2 separate regions of the Homo sapiens genome follow, and region 2 is linked to region 1. The links come from fine-mapping of genetic effects on gene expression. A gene starts in region 1. The other region holds a variant in brackets. All regions are shown on one strand. Distances are from middle to middle. Region 1 holds the start of CRYBB1 (crystallin beta B1). Region 2 overlaps TPST2 (tyrosylprotein sulfotransferase 2).

Region 1 (2,905 bases):
AAGAAGTCCCATTTGGGAGTACTTAAGGTGTGCCAGGCACTGTGACATACATTAATTAACCCATCTGACCATGAACCTCACCCGATGGAGTAGCTGCTATCATGATCCCCTCTGAGCAGCAGGGGGCTGGAGAAGGAAGGGGCCCAGCTCAGGCCCAAACAGCTACTAAGTGGTAGGGCTCTGATTTCAACTCAAGGAAATGGAGCCAGCAACTGGGCTTTTAAAGTATTCTGCCATTTGCTTAATCTGATTTATTCACCGTCCATCCCTAACACTTGCTCTGCACCTGGCACATAGGAGATGCCCAATTAACATTTGTTCAGAGAATGAATGAATGCATGCTCCCAGCTCCTTTCCCCGTCTGCTTCCTCTGAGGGGTTGGTGTATGGGTGCAAATACAGGCCGGGGACTGAGGCTTATGGGAGGACCCAAGAGGATGTATTTACTGCATGTGGAGGGTTCTGAAAATGAGGACTGGGGCTGGGTAGGCTTTGGGTGGAGAGGGCTTTGGTCAATTCCAGTGGTTCCTTGTTGCTTTGGGGTCGTGGACTCCTTTGAATGTTTGATGAATACCTCAACTTTGTCCCCGGACAAAAATAATGCTCTCTTTAACTTTGGAGACAATGTTAAGGGATTTGAGGACCCCCTGCTAGCACAGATTAAGACCCTCTGGTCAAGCTGATTCCCGAACACATTCTGTAAGGCGGAGCTAGTTGGGATAAGCACATCCCTCCCCCAGCCTCCTCCAGGAAGGCTGTGCATATTCTGGGGTGCCCCCTGTTCACCAGGGGTGAGGCCAGACATCTGGACCACATCTGTGGCTTTAAACACTCCCCCAGGGCTGGCAGCTGGACTCATGCCTTCCTGGAGATATTCTCATTCTCTCTCTCTCCCTGCTTCACCCTCTCCCTCTGTTCCTCCTCTCTTCCCTGTCTTTGCCTCTCTATCTGTTTCTTACTTCTCTCCCTCTTTCTGCCTATCTGCCTGTCTGTTTCTCTCCCTCTCTGTTCCTCTCTCCCCCACTATCTCTCCCTCATTGTATCTTTGCTTATCTCTCTATCTGTCCTTTTTAATTATATTTACTTCTCTCTCTATTTCTGTCTTTTCTCACTCTCTCCCCTCTCCCTCTCCCTCCCTTTCTTCCTCTCTCCACTTCCGTCTTTATCTCCATGGCCCTGCTCTCTGACTCTCATGGCACTGCTATCTCTGCCTCCCTCTCTCTGTCTCCCTTTTCTCTTCCCCTCCCCTTCAGCTCTCAGCTGGGCTGTGGGTTCCCTCTTACCTGGGGACTTGCTACTTCCTGCTGGAGGACAGGCAGGCGGGCAGGTGCTATGGGTGACTAGAGTCCGACCCCCCATTTTATAGTCTGGCAGACATCAGGCCCTATAGTCTGTGGCACAAAGGGGAAGCTGGCTCAGCAGGCCTGGGCAGGGAGTGGGGGACTGGGGCCCTGACCTCGCCTGGATCACTGCAGACAGCAGCACTTTCCTTTGTGAGACCAGCACACACAGCAGAAACCCTGGCCACAGCAGCTTCACCTTCCAACCCTACCCTGACTCCTTTCTCAACAACCCCAGCCAGGGATGGGCCCCCAAAAGGGTCCCTGCTGGCTGCCAACATGGGGCAGGGAAAAGGGGAGACCCTGGGAGGCAGGAGACCAGAGTTTGAATCCTGACTCAGCCACTGCGCGCTGTGTGGCTTTTGGTAGGTCTCTACCCCTAGGGGGGCCTCTGTGTCTGCAATTATAAGGTGGGCACGTGTCCCTGTTGGATGCCATATAGAAAAGAAGGTGACAATGAGCACAGAAGCGTTTTGTAAAGGCAGATGTGGGTTTGATATGGACAGCCTTTTTTACGGAGTGCTTACTGTGTGCCGAACCCGTGTTATCTCGGTCAGTCCCCGGGACAATCTGCCTTATTTGGTACTTTCATTATGCCCATTTCACAGAAGAGGAAAGTGAAGGCACAGAGAGGTCAGAGCCAGCCCAGGCCAGCCAGCTCTGGGCCTGTGTGCTTTCTTCTCCTGCTGTCCAGCCTTGACCTTGGCCTGAGGCCCCCTGGCCTGACTTCCTCTTTGTAGGTTGGGGTGGGAATGGGAGAGTCGCACTGTGCTCAGCTGGGTTGGATATCGGAGACCTGGGTCTTTTTCTTTTCCCCACATTGGGCCCCATCCTTTCCTGACCTATCGACAGTGATCCCTCTCGCCACCCCAGTTCCCCGCCTCTACCCAGGCCACGTTATCTGACCTGGAGGACAGTGCTGGTGGCCAGAAATATGACTGCCTGTCCCAGAGCCTCCTGCCCTGGCAAGCCCCAGATGCCCACCACATCTTGTTCACCACTGGCCCCAGCACCTAGCTGGGCCTGGCTAGGTAGAGCTTGGCACATCATGGGTTCTCAGTCAATAACTGGTGACTCAATGGTGGTTCCAATGGATCGGAACAGAAGGTAGGGTACGGAGGAGATAGGGAAACCAAGGCAAGGAGAGAGAAGTAAGGAGGCAGATAGAAGTAACAGACAAAGAGAGAGGTGGAGACAGAGACACAGAGAGGCACAGGGGACATGGACAGTGAAGGAGCGAGAGACGGAGAGACAGAGGTCAAGTTGGGGTGATCAAGCCTCAGGACGGAGGAACAGACGCCAGAAATCACAGGGCCCAATCCTCCCATTTCACAAATGGAGAAACCGAGGCCCAGGTGGAACAAATGACTTCAACATAGTCACATGGCGGGAACTCACAGTACAGCTGGGGTCAGAAGGAGCCTGGGGAGCTGCTCAGCTAGGTCACCTGCAGTCGGCTCCCCAGTCCCAGGCAGGGTATATTGCGGGGGCATCTGGATAGGCTCCTGTCTCTTCTTTTTCGGGGTTCTAGGCTCCCCGTGGAGCCCAGCTCTGTCTTGAACTCTC
Region 2 (2,905 bases), 40 kb before region 1:
GACAGAACGAGACTCTGTTGCAAAAAAAAAAAAAAAAAAGAAAATTAAATTAGCCAAGCGTGGTGGTGCATACTTGTAGTCCCTGCTACTTGGGAGGGTGAGATCACTTGAGCCCAGGAATTCAAGGCTGCAGCAAGCTATGATCATGCCACCGCAATCCAGCCTGGGTGACAGGGCAAAACCCTGTCTTTAAAAAAAAAAAAAAAAAAAGTGAACATGCATATAGTGCTTACTGTGTGCCTGGGGGGTTTTCTACACACTTTACAAATATTTGCTCTTTTTTTTTTTGAGACAAGGTCTCGCTCTGTCGCCCAGGCTGAAGTGTAGTGGCACTATCTTGGCTCACTGTAACTTCCACCTCCCAGGTTCAAGCGATTCTCCTGCCTCATCCTCCCGAGTAGTAGCTGGGACTACAAGTGTGTGCCACCATGCCCAGCTAATTTTTTGTATTTTTTTAGTAGAGATGGGGTTTCACCGTGTTAGCCAGGATGGTCTCGAACTCCTGACCTTGTAATCTGCCCGCCTTGGCCTCCCAAAGTGCTGGGATTACAGGTGTGAGCCACTGCACCCGGCCATTTTTTTTTTTTTTTTTTTTTTTGAGACAGAGTCTCACTCTGTCTGCCACCCAGGCTGGAATGCAGTGGCACAAGCTCGGCTCACTGCAACCTCCATCTCCCAGGTTCAAGTGATTCTCCTGCCTCAGCCTCCTGAGTAGCTGGGATTACAGGCTTGAGCCACCATGCCTGGCTAATTTTTGTATTTTTAGTAGAAATGGGGTTTCACCATGTTGGCCAGGCTGGTCTCAAACTCCTGACCTCAGGAGGAGGTCTAGACCTCCTAAAGTGCTAGGATTACAGGCATTAGCCACCATGCCTGGCCGAGTTTCATTTCTTAGATCTCACCCACAGGAGAGAAAACATTATCATGTAGCTGGAGGAAGGAATATCAGTAATGTTCATGAGTAAACATCAAAATGTATTATTATCTTTAAGAATTACCAAAAGGAATTTCAATTAAAATCAATTATATAGGCTGGTCTTGAACTCCTGACCTCAGGTGATCCGCGCATCTCCGCCTCCCAATCGCTCATTTAATCCTCACAACTAATCTATGAGGACAGTGCTCTGTCATTCCATTTTACAGCTGAGGAAGCCAAGGCACAGAAAGGTGAAGTCGTTGCCTGAGATCTCACAGCAGGTTTTAGCGCCCGTGTGCTTCGTCTGCTGCACCTCTACTACCCCAGCTCTCAACGTGGGTTCTCTGACCAGCAGGAACAGCGCTTAGGAACCTACACAAAATGCAGATTATCAGGGCTCAAGGAGACCACGCTGAATGGGAACTCTGGAAGTGGGGTACAGCAACCTGT[G/A]TTGAAGAAGCCCTCCATCCACGGTGAGGTCAGCAACCTCCGACCCTGCAAACCTGACCACGCTCTGCGATCCTCAGGACTGTGCCATGGGGACTATGCCTGGGGACCCCAAGGTCCTCAGAGAAGGAAGATTTTGCCCAGAGTCCCGCAGTAGGTAGAGGAGAGCAAACCAGGCCTCGAACCAGAATCTCCCATCTCTCAGAAGTCGGTGTCTACACAACAACCGCTGAGGGATGTCAAAGCAGCCACCAGCTCAACACAGGGGTGCACTGTTCCCAGTTTCTGAGGCATGGAAGACCCAGACCCCATTATTTCCAAGCTATTTGCATGATCCAGAACAAGTTACCTCAACTCTCTGGGCCTCAGTTTCCCCATCTGTGAAAAGAAAAAGCTGGACCCTATTTCTTTCTTTCTTTTTTTTTTTTTTTTGAGACGGGGTCTCACTCTGTCACCCAGGCTAGAGTGCAGTGGCGTGATCTTGGCTCACTGCAGCCTTGACCTCCCAGGCTCAAGCAATCCTCCCACCTCAGCCTCCAAAGTAGCTGGGAATAAAGCATGCACCACCATGCCCGGCTGATTTTTGTACTTTTTTGTAGAGACAGGGTTTCGCCATGTTGCTCAGGCTGGTCTTGAACCCCTGAGCTCACGCAAGTGATCCGCCCGCATTGGCCTCCCAGAGTGCTGGGATTATGGGTGTGAGCCACTGTGCCCAGCCTGGAGGCAAGACTCAGTTTCTAACCTTGTTTTTCTTCCCAAAACTCTTAGCCATCAAATATGCACTGCTGGTCTACTGTGCACTTGAGCAAGGAATGACCACGTAGCAGAATGAAGGGCAAAGGCACCTACTGCATGCAGCTTCCAGCAGTGCTCAGAGGAAGGGTAGCCGACACTCCCCCAGTACCCCAAACCAAATCAAACCAAAAACAGCATCTGCCGTCCTGCTGCTAGCCCAGGCTTCCTCTTCTTCCCCACAGCCCTGGGGCCCGGTGGGGAAGGGAGGGCCCTGGGGGCGTGGAAAGGGTGTGGGTTGAGAGGAAACCATGGCCTTGTAGGGCGGCCTTGCCAGGTGCCTGACTCCACAGGGCCTCTGTCTTCCACCTGGGAAGTAGCTACTACCACTTTCTCACACCTCCAAAGGTTTCTGGCTGAGCCCCCGGGCTCTGCAAGGGTCCGGATGGTTCTGTGGCAGGATGTCAGCCACCAGCCAAAGCAAGTGGGATGAAAAGTTTTTAATGAGAGAAAGGAAGGGCCGTGCTGGCACCTGTGTGGGCTTGGGGTCGGCAGCGGGAAGGAAGGGGGAAGTGGTGCAGATTGGGGCGGAAGAAGACAGAGAGAGAAAAAAACAGACAGAGGCAGAGACAGAGGGAGATAGAGACAGAGGATGTAGATGGGGAGAGAGAGTCAGAGGAGAGGCAAAGATGGGAGTAAGACAGAAAGAGTGACAGAGACAGGGAAAGACGTGAGTTGGGGGGATGGGTGGGAGGGAGAGAGAGGCAGGGAGACAAAAATAGAAACCAAGACAAGTTGGGTACAGAGGCT

The links. PIP is the estimated chance that this variant, and not a neighbour inherited with it, causes the effect. A credible set is the group of variants that fine-mapping cannot tell apart.
Region 2: its variant is the best candidate, but not a certain one, in a credible set for the expression of CRYBB1 in whole blood (TOPMed, PIP 0.67).

What each region holds. Positions count from the first base shown.
Region 1 is chr22:26,616,695-26,619,599 of GRCh38, forward strand. It overlaps CRYBB1 (crystallin beta B1), which reads right to left and starts at 1,333. Exons shown (of 6, transcript NM_001887.4): 1 at 1,283-1,333. It also overlaps a transcript of CRYBA4 not described here. RefSeq lists enhancers at 387-1,064, 1,743-2,418.
Region 2 is chr22:26,577,075-26,579,979 of GRCh38, forward strand. All of the region lies in intron 1 of TPST2 (tyrosylprotein sulfotransferase 2), which reads right to left. Among named protein-coding and RNA genes, the nearest start is that of TPST2, 12 kb to the right of the region's middle. RefSeq lists enhancers at 2,459-2,508, 2,700-2,905 and a silencer at 2,649-2,728. The variant G/A (reference allele first, on the strand shown) is at 1,367.